Homo sapiens: one gene and its partners. The protein of the gene in region 3 purifies or fractionates together with the protein of the main gene of each other region. This does not show direct contact. Each region holds a gene or a part of one and is shown on either strand. Other genes may lie near its edges.

Region 1 (7,143 bases), on a different chromosome or scaffold from region 3:
GAAAGTGAAAGGCAAGGATGACTCATTGTTTCAGTTTTCTCTACCCTAACAACCCCAGTGCAATAATTCACAGCACCATATAACTGTGGGATGCCGCAGAATGGGATGCAAACAGAACTGGACTGAGAGTCAGTAATATCTAATATGGGAACACCAGGAACTTACATGTATACCCACATGCCCCTCAGAACAACCTACTCAAGTACCTAGAACAGAGTTTTTGTTCTAGTTTCAAGAGGAAGCCGCCAAAATTCCACAAGTCTGTCTTTTTATGATTTTGGCTTTCTTGATAAGCACCTTGAGGTAAAATACAAAATTATTCCTCTTTGTATAAGGCAGCCAATCCCTTGTGGTACCTTGTAGATAATATTCAAATCTTTGCTGAGTTCATTAAAATCCTGTCATTTGTTAGATAAATGGTTTTAATTATTAGCTTATATATAGATGACAAAAAAAAAATCTCTAAATCTTGACCAAGTTCTCCAAACTTCAGTCCTGAATTTCTACCTACTACTAGCTATATCCACCTGGTTGTTTTACAGGTACCTTAGAGTTAATAACCCCGAACTGAACTCTATCTCCCCATTGACACTGACTGTGAAATCACTCTAAAACCCTGTCTCTTTTCTCCATGTTCAATATTACCTTAGTTTGGGCAAAAGTGATTTCTTGCTTGGATGCCTGCACTGGTCTTCTAACCCCTGGTCTCTATTCTTCCAGAGTCTTTTCCTGCCATCTCTTATACCCTATGCTGCAATTACACTGACTTTACATAGAAGGCTCAATCCCCCCAGTTTTCAAGGCCCCCAGATTTCAAGCTTGTTTGCCTGGCATTCCATCCCCCAGTATTACTGGTGAGGCAAACTCTTGCCATTGCTGCAAGAACCACTACTGAAGGTAAAACTGACTATGTAACTCCCTCTTCTATGCCATCACTGTACTTTATGTACATCAGCCTACCCAGCTCTCATTTCTCCACTCACCAACATGTATCATAGAGTTTTACAGTTTTCAGGTTAACATTATTGAAGAAACACAATCAAATTACAACTGATTACCGCCGTCCCCTTAAAGAATTAAAAAACCATTCTCTTTGGTCCAAACAACAACCAACAACTGGCTGCACGTGTCCTTTCCAACCTCATTTCCCACTACCTCCCTTAATATATACCATTCTTACTAGCTAACTGTACCAGCCTGTTCAACAGAAATCACTTCTGTCTTTCTTGCTTACACTGTCCTCCCCACCTGAAATGTCTTCTGTCCATATTCCCCACTTAAAATATCATCTAGGCCTAGCACAAATGTCATTTGCTCAGCAATCTTCTCCGTCCTTCTTAGTTTGGGAAGTAATCTCTTCTTATGAGCTCCTTCCTACAGGACCACAGTAAGAAAAATCTGTTACTGAGTATTCCTTTTCCTCACTAGACTGTAAGCTCCTCGAAGGCAGGATCAATATTAAAATTATCTTAGTTTTTGTCACTGCAGCATGTTATACATAATATATAGTTGACAAGTACTTAAAAAATGAATTGTTGGGCTTAGCAAATCAAACACACAATGGACCTCATTATAATGAATAAGGTATAAGAACAGTACTGGTTACATGGATATGAGTCCGAAGCGTCACAGTGTGACAGCCTCTTAAAGCCTGTTTCTTCCTTTGATTCATAAGATCAATGTCAACAAAGCCACAGGACTCATTTTTTTTTGGCTTCTAAGGCAATTTATAAAAGCTCTTTCAGTCATGCTTGCATTACCTTCAACAACTACCTGTCGTACACTCATATGCAGAATATTGTGGGGGTGGGCCGGGCACAGTTGCTCACTGTAATCGCTGCACTTTGGGAGGTTCAGGTGGGCAGATCACTTGAGGCCAGGAGTTCCAGGGCAGCCTGGCCAACATGGCGAAACCCTCTCTCTACTAAAAATACAAAAATTAGCGGGCGTGGTGGCCCGCGCTTATAATACTTGCTACTCAGGAGGCCGAGGCACCAGAATTGCTTGAACCAGGGAGGCGGAGGTTGCAATGAGCCTAGATTGAGCCACTGCACTCCAGCCTGGGTGACAGAGTGAGATTCTGCATCAAAAAAAAAAAAAAAAAAAAAAAAAAGAATATTGTGGAGGCTACAAACTTTCATAAAATACTATCTCTACTCTTCTAAGGCAGAAAGGGTTTTTTGATTTTATTAAGTGCCACCCTACCTAAAGTTATTTGAAAACCTGACAATACAGTAATAATGATTACAGCTACATACATTGAGCCATTATGTGCCGGGCATTGTTGTCTGTAGTTTTAACATATTGAGGCATTTAATCCTCCCAATAACCACGTGAGATGAACTAAATATTGTCCCCCTTTACAGATGATGGCAACTGAGGCAAAGATTAAGAAACTTACAAAGGTTTCATAATGTAAGAAGTGGATTTTGAAGCCAGGGAGTGGTTTGGTTTCCAGCTACACTGAGAAAAGAGACCAAGTCTTAGCGTATTTTTATCTCATAAAGAATCTAACATCTGTTTTCATGTAAAGTTCCGAAAAGACTGCACTATGCTTCATGCACTATGCTTCAGGAGTGAGGAGTGGGTAGAAAAAGCGGAATAGTTTTAGGTTTTAGTCACTCCAAAACATGATTCTGTACGAAAGAGTAGGTACTGCAAAGGTAGTGGCATACACATCCACCCCTGGACCATTTTCCAGCCGCCCGAACACCTTCCAGATCCTCGACACGGAGACCGGCTCCAGGGCCTTTATCTACCTGCAGGTAAACTGTCCAGGAATCGGGGGACGCAACCCAATCTGCAGTGGTAACGGGACCTCCCAGGTACCCTGGGGATCCCCCACAGGCGCGTGCTCTACCCAAAGCCGATATCCGCCAGGCGGGCGAGTCCGAACGCGACTGACAATTCCTTCTCCCCGACCCTCGAGAAACTCACGCCCCGCCCCTCAGCCGACAAAGCGCGGTGCCCCTCATACTTAGAATCTGCAGAGAACACAGCTCTCCTAAAGTTCAACTCGCTGCCGCCACAACGAACCACGCGGATGTTCTCCTCCTCCACCATCTTTGCGCAGTAGCGGAATGGCCAATCTCTGGTCCCGCCCTGAACTTCCTTCGTTGAGCCGGGTAATAAGGCTGTTCCCAGCCCACAGAACCCACCCCCGGGCCCTTCTAGGCCTGAGACTCGGTGGTAGGACTCCGCTTCCGTGCAGGCACCTTTTGTGTGGGCAATGTCAAACTAAGACACTTGTAAGAAAAGGTGAAAGCAAAACAGAGATTTAGAGACAATCAGTTTTTATTATATACCTATACACAATTATTTAATACAGACATATTTCTCTCAGGCCTTGTCAACCTGACTCTATGGCTTTTTCCGCCAGAAGGGAAAGGTGGCGTATAGTGTACCACGTGACCTCCAGTCGTCCCACCGGAGGCGTCGCTTTCTAGTGTCTGTGGTGTCGGCGCTGCAGGATGACGCGAGCCTCTCGCGTCCCTGGTTTTCTCGGTCGCAGCGTTGAGTTATTGGGTGGAAAGGTAGCTTTCTCTTCCTTGTACAGCTTTTTGTTCCTCTCATTAGCCGTTCTTCTGTTCTTGTGAACATCGCTTAGGTTACTACAGAATCTCCACAGTCCTAGGGCCTAGCTTTCTTCCTTTGGAAATCTGGCTCCTACTCCGGGATTCTGGTGCATCTTCCGCAGCGTTCAGTGTAGCTGCTCGGGCTAATCTGACATTCGGCCAGTCCCGCCAGGTTTCAGGGCGCTGGTCTCTGGTTTCCTGAGTTTTACCTTTTCCCATTAGTGAATAGAATCTGTGGGTTAGGAACCCCTAAAATCTCAACATGTTTATTTTTGCCAGTTTATCTCCAGTTTTCCTTTGTAAACTTACACGTATCATATTCTTGGACCCTGTATATTATGTTGCCTATTTTGATTTCGCTTCTTGATTTGTGGATTTACCACAAAATTACCAAGGTCTCAAATATAGTCACATGTCACATAAGGATCTTTCAATCAATGCATATAACATGGTGATTCCGTAAGATTATAATACTGTGTTTTTACTGTACCTTTTATGTGTTTAAATACACAAATACTATTCTGTTACAATTGCCTGCAATATTGAGTACAGTAACATGTTGTTCAGATTTGTAGCCTAGGAGCAATCAGCTATAACGTACAGCCTAGGTGTGTAGTAGGCTGTACCATCTAGGTTTGTGTAGGTACACTCTGTGATATTCACACAATGATGAAATCACCTAAAATGCATTTCTTAGAACATATCCCCATCATTAAGCCACACATGATTATACCTATAAGTTTATTTATGGTGGAGAAATACAATATTCACAAAGGTCAAGACATATCCTGGGACAGCACCACTGTAAAAATCAGGGATAAATTTACTTTTTACTGAGGAGTCTAGCTTATTAAAGTGCTCAAAACTTTATTATTTGGGGAGCCAGAACTAGAAAGGGAGATATTTAATAATTTTGGTTTATCTCAAGCTGTAACCAGCTTTCTCTTTCATGACTGTGATACCCTTTGTCACAGTGGATGGAGTGTAAAATATCACTTTTGATTCTGCAGCCTTAACCTCTTTTTGTTTAGTCTCTTGATGTATGCACAATAAATCTTTTAAAGACTTTGTTGGGTACTTTGTAACCTGATACAGGCTTTTCCTTAGGGCCTGAGCCAAGAAACAAAATAAATATTTTCACTCAAATTAGTGTGACTTTAGTTGTATGTTACTGTATGGTAACTTTAGATTTTTCAGAAAAGAATCAGAAATCCTGATATGGACAAAAACTAGCTGGATTGATAAATGTATAGGAGGATTATTTTACACAGAGTTTTAATTTACTGAAGTGCCCAGAAAGATAAGTCATTTGTATTTTGATTTCTTTTTACATAATTTTTAAGGAACCAATCCCACCTACAGCTGTTTAATTAATAGTGCGTTGTCTTTATCATGTAACAAGAAGGCTGAGGTAGGCAGAATAGGGCTAGTGCAGTGGATCATTCATGCCACCAGGGACCTGTGCTTTCTCTACTTTGTTCTTTGTGTTATTGTCCTTAACCATATTGGTTTTGTCCTTATGCTCACAGTTCATGTTCCTTTCAGTTAGAAGAAATAAGGGAATAGCAAGAAAGAGCATAGCCTATATACAGAAGGAAAAGGATTTTCCAGAAACACTTATTTGGCATCTTCCATCCAGGAAATATTTACTAAGTGCCTAGTATATGCCAGACATTCTTTCAGGCTCTGGGAATACTGGAGTGAGAAAAATAGTTAACAAAATCTGTATGTTACTGGACCTTACCTTATCATGGGAAGAAACAAAAACTTATTATACTTTTGATGTATTTATGTGCCAAGGGGAAACTCAAAGTAGAAAAGAAAGTGATTATAAGGGTTTGATCACCTTTATTATGGGTTTTCAGGGAAAGCCTTACTGAGAAGGTAACATTTGAAATAACCTGAAAAGGTTGAGAGTGTGAATAAGCATGGAGCTGTTTGGTGAAAGAGTCAGCCAGAGGAAAGAGTATTCCTTTCCATGTTCAAGATAAGTCAAGAGGCCAGTGTGGCTGGAGAATAATCATCAAGGGGGTATAGTAAAAGGTGAGGTCAGAGAGGTAATAAGAGGCCAGTTCATAGGGTCTCCTAGATCATTGTAACAGCTTTGGGTTTTACTCTGAAATTGAAGACAGTGTAGCCTTTGTGTTAAAAAGTGAAACGATTAGGCTAATTTTAAAAATTTACATACAATAAAATCTGCTTTCTTTGATATCTATGATGCACAAATTATCGTATCCACCATCACAAATAGGATACAGAAGAATTCCAGCACCTCAAAGAATTCCCCAGTATTTCTCCTTCCCCTCCCCAAGACCTATCCCCTGGCAACCACTAATGTTCTCCATCCCTAGTTTTGCCTTTTCCAGAAAGCCATGTATAAATGGTATCATATAGTATGTAACCTTTTCAGTCTAGCTTCTTTCAGTTAGCATATTGCATTTATGTTATGTGCATCAGTGCTTTATATTGCTGAGTGGTATTCCATTGTATGGCTATTTCACAGTTTATTTGTTGAATGTGTTTTACCCCCAGGTTTTAGAAATTATGCATAATACTTCTCTAAACATTCATATGTAGGTTTATGTGTGAACATAAGCTTTTATTTTTCTAGGATAAATACCAGCAAATGAGATTGCTCAAATCATAAGTGTATGTTTATTTAAGAAATTGCCAAACTCTTTTTTTCCCAGAGTTACTGTACTATTTTTGCATTTCCATAAGTAATGTATGAAAGTTTTAGTTACTTTACACCCTTGTCAGGACTTGGTATTGTCAAGGTTTTTTTTTTTTATTTTAGCCATCATAATAAGTTTGTAGTGGTATTTCATTGTGGTTTTAATTTTCACTTCCCTAATGACTAATGCTGAGCATCATTTTATATCCTCTTTGGTGAAGTGTCATCAAGTCCTTCACGCATTGCTTTATTGGTTATCTTCTTGTTGAGTTTTGAGCATTCTCTTTTAAAATTTTTATTTTTATTTATTTTTTATTTAATAAAATTTTTAAAAGCTTTCCCATTAGTGAGAAGGATTTAGTCACATTTTTACTGCTTAGTATCTTCATGTATGTTTCTGTTCCCTTCAACAGATATAAACACCATGTACAGTATTTCACACCACTACCCTGCATAATGTACATAGGAGACATCTTCAAGCAGATTACATCGATTTTGTATTAATGTCATGAATTACTTAGTGATAGGCCCTTGGGCTCTGCTATGTTTCCTCATTCCCTAATGATGGTGCAATTTTTATCTCTTCTTAGGTTTCCTATGATGCTGAAATCCTTATCTATCCCATATATTTTTCATTCTGCACTTTCTCTCTTGTATACCTCTGCCCTAGGAACCTCAGGCAGTTAAGTGATGATTATCACAAGCGGGTTATGTTCCATTTAAGGTTAACAGTTCTCATGGTTATAATTACACCTTTTCTGTTTTGGCTATGATTAAACCCATAGATTAAAATTGTATGATCTCTTGTACCCAGTGGCTAAAGCGAAATTTTAGAATGGTTTGAAATGTTGTTGCACAAAGTGTGGTCCGTGGACCAGCAACAGCAGTGTCACC
Region 2 (7,112 bases), on a different chromosome or scaffold from region 3:
CAAGCACACTTGCTCCTTTTCCCAAAAGTTCCTGAACCACCATTGTTAGCCCATTTCGGGCAGCAACATGCAGAGGTCTAGGGGAAAAAACATGATACATGTACACATATGTGCATGTGCATGCACATACACATACACACCTGGCTGTCAAAGAGCATTTTTGTCAACTTGTGAAGACCAAGAGGTACAAACTCGAGAAACCTAGTCCTAATAACAAAGATGGGGGCAGGGAGAGCAGAACCTCTGTGCAGTGCACTGTCACACCTTGTCAACGTGTAGCTCGGCATCAAGCTCAGCCATAGGTCCCATCGACAGGTCCCTACCTTCACCCAATCCTTTTGTTACTTTTCTTTTCAATGTTTAAAAACATTTTACCATTGAAATTGCATTCCTCCGTTGTTAAGGAATGAGGCTGGTAAAGATACAGACTATACATTAAAAACTGTAAACTGCAGTAGCATAAATTCTAATAGGCTTTGAAAACAGCTTACAAGCATCATGACTAATTTTTGGACCTTCAAGGGATCTGACTAATCCCAGAACGGGCAACAATATTCTAAGATTTTTATCTTTACTAAACCTCAAAATGGAATAGCAAGGGACAATGAGAGACACTGATGTAAGATCTCTGTCAGTCTATCTGGAGGTTGGCTGCTCACATTATTAAAAATTTTGATTCTTTAAGAAACCTTATTGGCTTACAGACACACATAAAGCTTCTTACCTCATTTATTGTTAGTTTCAAGTAACATATTATTACAGTTGATTTCCACAGAATACACAAAATAGTACTACTTTCCTTCAGAAAATTAGGTAGGTGGATTAAGGAAAAAAATACATTATTGTCAATGTTATAATAAAATTTCAGTTCAAAAGCATTTTAAATAATATGGCTTTTAGTTGTGATCATTTTAGAAATGAGTTTTGACAGTTGTAAAACTATTAAAATTGCTTCTATGACTAATGAAACCTATTCCAATAGTCACATGTTTAAAAAAATCCATTTATCATTTTTATAATTATAGGTCACAAAGTTTATACTAGATACTGACAGTACTCACGTTTGCAAGGCTGCGTTGGTTGCATTGATGAGGTTTCTATCTGTTATCTTTTCCAGTATTAACAAGGCACTAGTTTCATGACCCTATAATTGTGGCAGATAAGTTATAAAAACTTGAGCACCATTAAAGATACATTTATACACCCAACAATCTGCAATCCTAGTCCATATATTATGTACAACACCATACATATACCATGAATTTTCCTGGCTAATATCTTAATATTTGCCCAAACACATCTTGGGAGTGAGGGTAGGAGAAGAGGACAAAATTAAGATTAAGGAAAGAGGATAATTATGCTTAGACTTGTGTTCCAAAACTTATTTGGCTTACTGGAGACTTTGATACGCCATGGTGCCTTATAAGTCAATTTTGTTCAAGAAATCTAATACCAGTGATCATTAGAGAGGTTTGGTCCTGAGTTGTTCATTTTAGTGAAGTCAAAAAACTTTTAAGGTCACTGTTAATATTAACAATGGAAACATATTCTTAAGATGTATACATACCTTGCTACAAGCCAAATGGAGGGCAGTATTTTTACTGTTATCTTGTAAAGTCAGTTCTGCACTAGCACTGCTAACCAGCATCTCTGGGAGGAAAAAGTGCATCAATTCTTATGTTTATGAACATGTTTCTTAGATTACCAATAACTCACTGTAGAGAAATGAAGATACAAAGCAAAAAAGTCCCTCTCACAAAAACTTAAGTACAAGAAAAATATTGTAATATATAACATATATATCTTCATATAATTGTATGAGACAATTATATTGTTGTATAAGTCACACACTCTAACAATGGCAATTAACATTTATTTTGTGACTGTGCACTAAATTTTAAATACTGTTTTATATGCTCTGGATTTAAAGTAATTTATTTAACCCTCACAACAACACACCAAGTAGATACTGTTATTTTTCTCATTTTATAAATGAGAAAACTGAGGCATAAGGTCATTTAGCTGAAAGATCTAGGACTCACATTCAGGCAATCCAACTCCACAGCCAGTGTTCTTAACCACTATGTTATAAGGCCATGGTAAAGTAGACTCCTCAATAGTCAGGGCAAACTAAAACATTGTATCCCTAAATGAAAATGTGGATTGCAAACAGGTAAAAGGTTTTAAGTCTTAGGAGTGGTAAGATAACTAGTTGAAGTCAGAAGTCTTGGGATCTAAGTTATACATAAGTGATACACATACTTAGGAAAATACAATTTTAAAGAAGTTTCTTTACCAACTGTATTTGTTTGTCCATTTTCTGCAGCCATCATAAGAGGTGTTTTCCCTGTAGAGTCCACAGAATTGACTTGAGCATTATGGCTGAGCAGCAGCTGTAAACACTCTACATGGTCTGTGAAGGCGGCTGCATGGAGAGGAGTTCTGTGATAAAGAAAAATTGAAATATATGACTAAATTTGAATGTTATATATGCTGGAAAAATATTCTTTAATTTGTGACATGCTGTTTTTAAGGGTTTACATATTAGGCTACAAAAGCACTGCCTGTACACAAACAAATAGGCTCAATGGAGCTTACTAATTTCTCTCATAGAAATTTGTACTTTCAATAATACAGAAGGCTTTAATTAAACTAGAACTAGTATGAAGTAAAGATTAATTACAAAATTGCTAAAATAACATTACATCATTAAAGGAAATTTTGAAAGAAATAAATCCTAATCTGAATACCACCACTTATTACAACTGCTGGACTTTTTTCCAGGCTTTATTCCCATTTAGAAAACTGTTAACTTTGTTAACAATAATCTTTGGGAAACAAATTCGAAAGAGAGGGAAAAATATTTACATGTTAAAATAGTTTAAAGGAGGAAAACTTCCTAAAATCTATAAATAGAAAAACCTTTTATAATGTAAAAATAATTGAGATCTTATAACAATTTATACTCGCAAATATAAAAATCAACTTTTAATAATGGGTTTTCTGTAAATTCTCTCACACCAGCCAGTAGTTAAAATTTATTTCTTATTGAAAATAAAACCTTTTTGGGGGGTAGGGCCCAGACGGGATCTCACTCTGTCACCCAGGCTGGAATGCAGTGGTGCAATCATAGCTCACTGTTGCCTCAAACTCCTGGGCTCAAGTGATCCTCCTGCCTCAGCCTCCTGAACAGCTGGGATCACAGGCATGCATCATCATGCACTTTTTTTTTTTTTGGTAGAGATGCAGGTCTTGCTATGTTGACCAGGCTGGTCTTAAACTCCTGGCTTCAAGTCATCCTCCCACTTCAGCCTCCCAGATTGTTAGGATTATAGGCATGAGCCACTGTGCCTGGCTAAAACTATTTAATACATAGTTGAATTCCTACCTTCCTTTTGAATCTGTGGCGTTCACAATGCTGGCACCTAATGTATCAATTAACATCTCAGCAGCACCTTCGTTGTCATTTATCCTGTGTAAGGTAACAAGGTGATCATTCTCACAGCAATGGTGTATTTCTTAAAACACTCAAACCAAATCTGATTCATTCTGGCTTTACTTACACGGCACAATGCAATGGACTAAAAGCATTTCCTTCCGTTTTCTGGAAAACTTCCTGTTCTAAAAGCAGTTCTACACATGTCTCGTGACCTAAATAGGTGTAAAGAACCAGGTATTAAAATTCAAAGGAGATACTGGCAAAAATCACAGGTACATGTAAGTGTTTAAAGGAAAAATGTAAAAGTCTCTCCCTCATCCCATCTCCCAGATCCCCTCTCTGGAATATAACCATTGGTAGCTGTTAAGCCACCAGTAGTTCCTGAAAATTTCTAGGCATATACAACTGCACGCACAAAATACATACAGTTGGCTCTCTGTATCCGTGGGTTCTGCATCCATCAATTCAACCAACCCCAAATTAAAAATATTTGGGGGAAAAAAAAAACAGAGCAGACTTTTTTTCTTGTCATATACCCTAAATACAGCATACCAATTATTTACATAACATTTACATTACATTGGTTATTATAAGTAATCCAGAGATGATTTAAAGTATAGCAGAGAATGTGCATAGGTTATATGCAAATACTATCCCATTTTCTATAAGGGACTTGAGCGCCTGTTGGTTTTGGTATTCACAAGGGGTCCTGGAAACCAATCCTCAACAGCAAACGAGAAATGACTGTGCTATTTTTTTATTTTTTTCTTAATGGCAATGGGATGTTTAATTCCGCAACTTGCCTTTTACTTAATATTAACTACACATATCCTTCCATAATAGCATATATGAAATATTATTATTATTATTTTAGATGGAGTCTCACTCTGTTGCCCAGCCTGGAGTGCAGTGGCGCGATCTTGGCTCACTGCAACCTCTGCCTCCTGGGTTCAAGTGATTCTCCTGTCTCAGCCTCCCAAGTAGCTGGACTACAGGCGCCCACCACCATGCCCAGCTAGCTTTTTTCGTATTTTTAGTAGACACGGGGTTTCACCATGTTGGTCAGGCTGATCTCAAACTCCTGATCTCAGGTGATCCACCTGCCTCAGTCTCCCAAAGTGCTGGGATTACAGGTGTGAGCCACCATGCCCGGCTAAAATCTTATTCTTTAATGTTCTGAAGAGCTTCACAGTATCAAAGTATATCATAAATTATTTAATCTAATTATGGATTTTAAAGTGATTGCTAGTTTAAAAAAATTCTTCATGATATTATCAACAACGCTGTAATGAAACATTCTGGTATTTTTTTATTTTATTAAAACAATTTTTTGAGACAGGGTCTTGCTCTGTTGCCCAAGTTGAAGTGCAGTGGCATGATCATGACTCTCTGCAGTCTCAACCTCCTGGGCTCAAGTGATCCTCCCACCTCAGCCTCCTGAGTTGCTAAGACAACAGGTGCAAGGCTACCACACCTGGCTAATTTTTTGATATTTTGTAGAGATGAAGTTTTGCCATGTTGCTCAGGCTGGTCTTGAATCCCAGAGCTCAAGTGATCTGCCTGCCTCAGCCTCCTAAAATGCTGGGATTACAGGCATAAGCCACCACGGCCAACATTTTGTTTTTATTTTAGGAAGTATTTTTGTAGGACAATTTCCTACCAAAGTGATATTGCTGTGGTAAAGGAGAAGTATCCAGCCTTGGTATTCTTGGGGGATTGGGTCCAGGACTCCCCACTGACAGCAAAACTCCATAGTCCCTTATACAGGTCCCTTGTACAAAATGGTTTATTTGTGTATAACCTATGCACATCTTCTCATATACTTTAAGTCATCTCTAGATTACTTACAACTTAATTCAATGTAAATGCTATATAAATAGTTGTTGTATTGTTTAGGGAATAATGACAAAAAAAAAGTCTGTACATGTTCAGCCTAACTATATTTCTGATGGACATTCAGTTGAATTCACCGATGGGGGACCCATGGATATGGAGGGCTGACTGTATTGACTGTTCATCAATATCTGGTCCATAGTTTTTAACAGTAACTTCAAAAACAGAAAAATCCAAATTTCAAATTTTCTTACCCTAATTCCAGAGCCAGGGTTTTAATTTAATACCCTAATTACTACAAATAAAATGTTGCTTATTTTATTTCATTAGTCATTTGGGATCTACTTTAGGAATAAGATTCTTACATGGCCTCTTTATACATTTTCATGGTTTAATATTTGCCTACCAAAGTGATGTTATATTTTCTTTTCTTTTTAAATTACTCAAACTTAATCAGCTTAAACTTTACCCTATAATTGTGGAAAAGTAATTTTTAGAAAAACCTGTAATTGTGTTCCATCTTTTGTCAGTTCTTTTCTCTAATCTAGTAGTTTTCAAGTGGATTTTGCCCATCAGCAGATATTGTATGTGGCAATGCCTACAGACATTTTTGTTTATCACAACTGAAGGTGGGGCAGTGCAACTGGCATCTAGTGGGTAGAAACCAATGATGCTGCTAAACATCTTGCAATGCACTGGAGAGTCCCTTGCAACAATCATCTGGCCCAAAACGTCATAGTGCTGAGGTTGAGAAACTCCTTTAATGCCATCGTTCTGAATGTTAACTCATTACTAAGATACAGCAATGGAAAGTTGTCCATTGTTGACTTAAGAGCCCCTCATTCTCCAGGTATATGGGTTCTTAAGGTGTGGCCTAGGGAACCCTGGGGTGACGCAAAAAAAATATGAATAAAAACACAGATGAGAACCCAACTATTCTCTTAAATTAGCTATGAAGAGATGTACTACTCTTCTCACTAAAAAGAAAATACTTTTGGAAAATAGTTTTCATAAAAAAAGATTATTTATGTTAACATGTAATAGACATTATTTTTAAATAAATCAGTAAGTATTTAAAAATTTCTCAATTACAATTTCTAATACAGTCAGTATCAATCCATAGTTCCTGAGACCAAAGGGTTTGAGAACCACTCACCATCTGAGTACAGACTGAGAAAAGGGAACAGTGGGGCCCCTTTGTGACCTCCAGAAATCATTACTGGGTGATATCAAGCAGACAATCTCATAACTTTCTATCATCATTTATGAAAGATAGATAGGATGGTAAACTGGGTCCTCCTGAGTTTCAGAGGCTAGTCTGAGGATGTTTAGAGCTTCATAAAAATGAACACATTTTTTAAAGGAATAATAAGTATTCTTAAGTTCTGTGATTGAATGACTATATAAACTGAAATTGTGAACTTTTAGTATCTACAGCCAGTGTTTTTCTAAAACTTGGCCATCATTTCATTTTAATTTTAAGAGGTTGTTTTCTGTTCTGTTGGCATGCTTCCACTTTTCTTTCCAGCTGTACAATAATTACTAGTTAAAGTAAAAACCATTTTACATATTCTACTTTCAGAATGCCAAATTATAAAACGGGCTTTTGGCTATAAATATGGTATTAATTTTAGGCTGTCTATATAGTCGCTTATTGCATATAGCCAACACACATTAAATTCCTTCCAGCTCAAATTCAGCATCACCACAATTTTGCTACAGGCTGAAAATCAGACACATTTGTTATGATCTTTAAATGGCAACCAGGCATGCAGTTCTTGCAAAATTCTGTCTCTTGCACAAAACGTGCTTAGAGTCTAAATTTAGCAGTGATAGAGTA
Region 3 (7,112 bases):
TGTCTCATGCCTGTGATCCCAGCACTTTGGGAGGCTGAGGGGGTGGATCACCTGAGGTCAGGAGTTCAGGACAGCCTGGCCAACGTGGTGAAACCCCATCTCTACTAAAAATACAAAAAGTAGCCAGGCCTGGTGGTGGGCACCTGTAATCCCAGCTACTCGGGAGGCTGAGGCAGGAGAATGGCTTGAACCCGAGAGGCAGAGATTGCGGTGAGCTGAGGTGGTGCCATTGCACTCCAGCCTGGGTGACAAGAGTGAAACTCGGTCAAAAAAAAAAAAAAGGCTGGGTGCGGTGGCTCACGCCTGTAATGCCAGCACCCAGCACTTTGGGAGGCTGAGGCGGGTGAATCACTTGAGGTCAGGAGTTCAGGACCAGCATGGCCAACGGGTGGTGAAACTCCATCTCTACTAAAAATACAAAAATCAGCCAGGTGTGGTGGTGGGTGCTTGTAATCCCAGGTACTCGGGAGACTGAAGCACAGGAATCGCTTGAACCCAAGAGGCGGAGGTTGCAGTGGGCCAAGACTGTGCCATTGCACTACAGCCTGGGTGACAAGAGCAAAACTCCGTCTCAAAAAAAAAAAAAAAAAGAAAGAAAGAAATAAAACACTGTTTCATAACAGCCTTCTCCAAATCTCCAAATAGTTTTTAACTGAGCAAGGATTCACATCCAGTTGATTTCCACTTCACACAAAAATGACATATTTAGGAAGTTTCCTCTTATGTGACCAGATATTGGACTATCACTTACCCTTTTGAGGCTTATGTTGTCATGTTCATAATTCAGCCGATAGAGAAAAAACCGAGAAACTGTAGAATAGGCTATCCAACTTCCACATGGGGAGATACAGCTACAGATAATGTTCTCAGGACCCTGGCAATATCAGGAATCAAGATGAATGTGCAATTAAACTTCACATAACAAGGTGCACTGGGACATGACGCCTCAAGCTCTTGCCACTCTGGACATACCCACAGATATCTACACATAATCTCGATCCTCGTGTGGTCTGCATTAATATGATTATTTCAGAGGCAGAGCACCTAAAAGGCATGGCTTTGATTTCCAAATCCAAGAATGGAGGTCTATTCTTATTTTGGCCCTTTGAATACTTCATAGATAGCCTCATACTAGACCCCAACTTCAGAAACCTGAGCAGGGAGGCATTTACTGAAGGAAAGCTCTGGAGGATAGGTGGTTTGAAGTACTTATTTTCTGTTTTGTGTACGGCGTTCTGCTTTAAAGACTTCTAAGAAATAGCAAATGAAGAACATTTGAAGGCCAGGTACAGTGGGTCATGCCTGTAATCCCAGCACTTTGGGAGGCTGAGGTGGAGGATTGCTTGAGCCCAGGAGTTCAAGACCTGTCTGGACAACATGGTGAAACCCTGACTCTACAAAAAATTAGCCGGGCATGGTGGTGCACACCTGTAGTCCCAGCTACCTGGGAGGGTGAAGTGGTAGGATCACCTGAGCCTGGGAGGTTGAGGCTGCAGTGAGCCGTGACCGTGCCACTGCTCTCCAGCCTGGATAACACAATGAGACCCTGCCTCAAAAAAGTAAGCAAACAAACAAAAAAACCAACCAACTAACCAAACAAAAAAGAATCTGGAGAATAAAGAAAAGTTGAATGTAACATGTATGTAGTTTTTAAAAACTCACAAAATGATTTTTTTTTCATTGTATACCCTTTTGTACTATTTGAGTTTTTAAAAATATGCACATGGCTGGGCGCGGTGGCTCACGCCTATAATCCCAGCACTTTGGGAGGCCAAGGCGGGCGGATCACCTGAGGTCGGGAGTTCAAGACCAGCCTGACCAACCCCATCTCTACTAAAAATACAAAAAATTAGCCGGGCGTGGTGGCGCATGCATGTAATCCCAGCTACTTGGGGGGCTAAAGCAGGAGAATCGCTTGAACCCAGGAGGCGGAGGTTTCGGTGAGCTGAGGTGGTGCCATTGCACTCCAGCTTGGGCAACAAGAGTGAAACTCCGTCTCAAAAATAAATAAATAAATAAATAAATAAATAAATAAATAAAAGCACATTATTTTCATAATAATATCAAAAGAAGAGAAACCTATTTCCTGTATACATCCATCTAATAAATCCTCAACGTCCTACTTATAATCACAGGAAACCCAGTCCTGGTGACACAGTCCTTCATTCAAATAGTTTTAGAATTTATACAATTTATGATGCAAACTAAGTAACCTCAAAATTCAGAATGGGAATTATGAGCCTAGAATTCAGGCTCTAGAATTCAGAGCCTAAACAAACTTCCTTACCTTTGTCTTTAGGTGCAGTAAATGATCTGCATTTTTAGAGAGTGGAAGAGTATCCCCATTCTTGCCTGAAACAAGAAACTTCCCTGAGATTTTTCTTATGAAAGAAAGAGTATTTGTACATTTTTCTTCTAAAAAGTTACTCCTTGGAAAAATGGAATCTCTATCAGTGGGAAATCAGAAAAATACAAGCTCACTGAGTAAGCTCACAATTTTTGAGGGGTATATGAAGAGAAAGCAGTGAGTACTTCTTTTGCTTCTATCCTCTGATACATCACTAATTCCCTGAAGCTCTAGTCCATAGCCAGGGACACAGGTGGAGTTTGTGTGGCCTCGATTTTAATCCACTGCAAATGAGAGGACTCAAACATTTCCTTAATAAGTCAAAAAGGCCACTAGGCTGTCACTCCAATAAGATCCATGTGATCTTCTTTTTCTACAGGATTATCATTACCCATCATTAAATCTTGTTGTTTTTCAACAGCCTGTTTTCACCTCAGTTAAGCTAGCGCAAACTACGATTCTTCAACCCTTACCTTGACTACACCCTGCAGCGCACCACCTAGAGCCATAAACTTTTAAGAGATGATCCAATATCCTGCTAAAGATTCTAATACTCTAAACAGCTTATTTGCTTTATCTAATGGGTGGGAAAACCATTAGTTAAAATGGACACAAAAGTCTACTTCAGTTTTTCTATAAGCAGAATTCCAACCGCAATTCTGATTTCTGGCTTCTCTCTCCAGTTTTCTTATTGAAAAAAACGTGCTCCCATCTTACCTGTTGCAACTGTGGATCCCAGTCGCCAAAGTTCTAAGTGATGAGCAAACTGGAAGAGGAGAAGCTGCCTCTTTTTAGAACAGGAGATGAGACATCGCTATATCCAAGAATCAAGAAGTTAAAAAAATAAGTCAGGGTCATCTACTGCCTTAGTACCAGATACAGTAGCACCACCTTAGCACATTTTTTACTGCTGAAATCCATTTCCTTGATAAATATTTCCTAAGTACTCCCATATGCCAGGCACTGCCCTGAGATCTATGAAGACGATGATGAATTAAAACATAGCTACTGCTCTCAACATGCTTCTAAAGGGGTGACACAGAATTAAATCAGCAATTAGACTTCAGTGTGCCAAGAATTTTAACACGGCTAAACACAGTATGTACTGAAAAATAAGGAGACAGGACATCTAACCTAGCTGTGTGGTGGTAAATACAGAAGCCCAGATGAGGTTCACTGGGAAAGACCAGTCAGGCGAAGGAGGCAGGGCAGAACATTCTGAGGAGGGTGATGGCATGTGACATAGCTCAAAGGTAAGAGTATTTGAGGGAACAAAAAGACCTTGAGAATGGCTAGCCTGGGTGGGGGTGCTACAAGCACGAGAGGTGCAAAAAGAAGCTGAAGGGCCAGGCCTGGATGGAGACAGGTTCTATAAGACACACTAAGGAAACTGTCTTTATGCTGAAGCCAACAGGGATAACCAGAGGCTTTGAAGCATGGAGTGATGAACAAAGGTGCTTTAAAACAGATCAATGGGCCTGGAGCAGTGGCTCATGCCTGTAATGCCAGCAATCGAGAGGCTGAGGTGCGAGGATTGCTTGAGACCAGGAGTTTGAGACTGGCCTGGGCAAGATAGTGAGATCTTGCCTCTATTAAAAAAAATAAAAAATAAAAAAATTAGCCGAGGCCGGGCACAGTGGCTCATGCCTGTAATCCCAGCACTTTGGGAGGCCAAGGCAGGTGGATCACCTGAGGTCAGGAGTTCAAGACCAGCCTGGCCAACATGGTGAAACCCTGTCTCTACTAAAAATACAAAAAAAATTACCTAGGCGTGGTGGCGGGTGCCTGTAATCCCAGCTACTAGGGAGGCTGAGGCAGGAGAATCGCTTGAACCCAGGAGACTGAGGTTGCAGTGAGCCGAGATTTCACTACTACACTCCAGCCTGGGCAACAAGAGCAAAGCTCTGTCTCAAAAAAAAAAAAAAAAAAAAAAGAAAAACAGAAATTAGCTGAGCCTGGTGGCGCATGCCTGCAGCTCCAGCAACTCGGGAGGCTGATGTGGGAGGACTGCTTGAGCTCAAGAAGCAGAGGTTACAGTGAGCCAAGATTACACCACTGCAGTGCAGCCTGGGTGACGGAGCAAGACCTTGTCTCAAAAAAACAAAAACAAATAAAATAAAATAAGATCAATGAAGAATAGGCTAGAATGACACAAATGCAAATAAAAGGACATGATTAAGAAGCTACTGTAAAGGAACCCAGATGAGAAAAGACACTGATCCAAACTAGGATGATGCCAGCGTAGACAAAGAGAAATGAATGACTCGATTCAAGAGATTATGAGGACTATGTTCAACCTCATCAAACCATATGCATTAAATATGTATGATTTTTAATATATCAAGTATGCCTCAATAGAGCTGTTGATCTATCTATCTATCTATCTATATCTATAACATATGTATAAAGATACTGATGAGTAGACTCAATGAGGTTTACTGCTTGAATGAATGGGGCAGCAGGTGTGGGGAGCAAGTTTTCTAGCTTGGGAAGATGGTACCATTTACCTAGAACACTGGAAGCCTGGGTTTTCCCGCTCCCACCCAGAATAGAGCCTACCCTGAAAGACAAACTAACAAAATTCCCATAACCCACAACTATTTGGAAAAGGGAAAAATTTCCCCAGAAACTGAACTAGGTGTGCTGCTGCATATCTCCTGCCCCCATAAATGTCTTTGCAGTGGCTTGCCTCAAAAACAGAAGGAATGAAGAAGGTAGCTACAGAAAGTCCTACAATATCTCCATGTCCCAGATGGTTAAAAAAAAAAAAAAGGCAGGGGCTGGGCACAGTGGCTCACGCCTGTAAGCCCAGCACTTTGGGAGGCCGAGGCGGGCGTATCACGAAGTCAGGAGATCAAGACCATCCTGGTTAACACAGTGAAACCCCACCTCTACTAAAAATAAAAAAATTAGCCGGGCGTGGTGGTGGGCACCTGTAGTCCCAGCCACTCGGAAGGCTGAGGCAGGAGAATGGCATGAACCTGGGAGGCGGAGCTTGCAGTGAGTGGAGTCGCACCACTGCACTCCAGCCTGGGCGACAGAGAGAGACTCAGTCTCAAAAAAAAAAAAAAAGAAAAAAAAAGGACCACAAAGCTGAGCGTGGTGGCTCACACTTGTAATACCAGCACTTTGGGAGGCTGAGGCGGGCAGATCACCTGAGGTTGGGAGTTCCGAGATCAGCCTGACCAACATGGAAAAACCCAGTCTCTACTAAAGATATAAAATTAGCTGAGCGCGGTGGCGCATGCCTGTAATCCCAGCTACTCGGGAGGCTGAGGCAGGAGAATCGCTTGAACCCGGGAGGTGGAGGTTGTGGTGAGCCGAGATCGCGCCATTGCACTCCAGCCTGGGCAACAAGAGCAAACTCTGTCTCAAAAAAAAAAAAAAAGTCCTACAAATTTGCCGAGCGTGAGCTGTGTTCAGAGCTTGTGGGACAGGGGGACACAGGGATGGGGAGATGAGGGGTTAGCAGGGGCTTGGAATGGACACTTACGTGGGGAAAGGTGATTTTTCGGAGAGCGGCATCGTAATTCTTTACTTCCACCTTCTCCATGAGAGGACGAAAGACTAAGTGGGTGTCAGTGCCTGGGAAAGCAGGGGAGAAGGTGTACAGAATTAGAAGTCATCCTCACGAGAACAGCCAGAACTGGGCAGGGTAAAGCAGCAGCCTCACCAGAGGGGGAACCCACCTCCAGATATCAGCGCTGTTGGGCTGTGGGCCACAGTGCGCACGTCATGAGTGTGATGCTGGAACGGTTTTGTCCGCACCCACTGCTTCTCACTGCTGTTAGATGTCACAGGGACCAGCTGAAAATGGAAGACTGTTCCCTCGGCTGTGCCCACCACGAAACTGTCTTCTTGCTGAGGAATTAAATCATGAGGGAGGTACACGTAAGCAAAACAAGGTCTGGTTGGAAAAATATTCCGAGGCTTTCTGTCTCAGCAGCTTAGGGGTAAACCTATGCCCAGAATCAGTAGGAAAGTTACAAGGGTCTTTTCCTTCCAGAAGCTAAGGATTCCATCAAAGGAGCAAGCTCAGACACTGGTAACAATGCGCCCCCTACTGACAAAATTAACGTCTACAGTACAGCAACGCTTCATATACCCAACATAGATCTCCTTAGAATAGCATTGAGAGAGAGAAAATACCTAGGACCTACTTGAGAAATTTAAATCCTTCGAAAGAACATAAGAGAAAACCTAACAAAGAAATTCATATCATGTTATTTAATACGAATATTTAACATGATCAAGTTATTATCACTAAAGAAATGTATTAAACCAATAAAAATACTGAAAATCCTTTATTTGGAACTAGAACAGGTGTTTCTTAATAACGTTTATTTCATTAAAAATATCCAAGAAACATCAGCCAGGCATGGTGGCTCACTCCTATAATCCCAGCACTTTGAGAAGCTGAGCTGGGTGGATCACTTGAGGCCAGGAGTTTGAGACCAGCCTGGCCAACATGGTGAACCCCGTCGCTACTAAAAATACAAAAATTAGCTGGGCGTGGTGGCGCATGCCTGTAATCCCAACTATTTGGACGGCTGAGGCACGAGAATCACTTGAACCTGGGAGGCAGAGGTTGCAGTACGCCAAGATCGCACCACTGCACTCCAGCCTGGGCAACAGGGCGAGACTCTGGCTTAAAAAAAGAAAAAAAAATGCAAGAAACACCAATAAAAAAGTTTCTTAAATAAACAAGGTGGGCAGAGCAGCACAAACCTGTAGTCCCAGCTACTCAGGAGACTGGGTAGGAGGA

Evidence for each region.
Region 1: the proteins of UTP4 (region 3) and WDR75 purify together in Homo sapiens (co-immunoprecipitation; 4 studies listed by BioGRID and IntAct, with this or other methods). This does not show direct contact.
Region 2: the proteins of UTP4 (region 3) and ANKRD28 purify together in Homo sapiens (co-immunoprecipitation; 3 studies listed by BioGRID and IntAct, with this or other methods). This does not show direct contact.

The regions. Positions count from the first base shown.
Region 1 is NC_000002.12:189,437,413-189,444,555, reverse strand, and holds the start of WDR75 (WD repeat-containing protein 75), read right to left. Parts: upstream 3,083-7,143; 5' UTR 3,064-3,082; coding exon 2,978-3,063; intron 1-2,977. UniProt on the Homo sapiens protein: Ribosome biogenesis factor. Part of the small subunit (SSU) processome, first precursor of the small eukaryotic ribosomal subunit.
Region 2 is NC_000003.12:15,675,913-15,683,024, forward strand, and holds part of ANKRD28 (serine/threonine-protein phosphatase 6 regulatory ankyrin repeat subunit A), read right to left. Parts: intron 3,652-7,112; coding exon 3,564-3,651; intron 3,473-3,563; coding exon 3,389-3,472; intron 2,443-3,388; coding exon 2,297-2,442; intron 1,716-2,296; coding exon of another isoform or gene 1,702-1,715; exon of another isoform or gene 1,651-1,701; coding exon 1,568-1,650; intron 1,145-1,567; coding exon 1,062-1,144; coding exon of another isoform or gene 1,058-1,061; intron 78-1,057; coding exon 1-77. UniProt on the Homo sapiens protein: Regulatory subunit of protein phosphatase 6 (PP6) that may be involved in the recognition of phosphoprotein substrates. Involved in the PP6-mediated dephosphorylation of NFKBIE opposing its degradation in response to TNF-alpha.
Region 3 is NC_000016.10:69,149,633-69,156,744, reverse strand, and holds part of UTP4 (U3 small nucleolar RNA-associated protein 4 homolog), read right to left. Parts: intron 6,209-7,112; coding exon 6,037-6,208; intron 5,933-6,036; coding exon 5,841-5,932; intron 3,162-5,840; coding exon 3,065-3,161; intron 2,353-3,064; coding exon 2,288-2,352; intron 875-2,287; coding exon 752-874; intron 1-751. UniProt on the Homo sapiens protein: Ribosome biogenesis factor. Involved in nucleolar processing of pre-18S ribosomal RNA. Part of the small subunit (SSU) processome, first precursor of the small eukaryotic ribosomal subunit.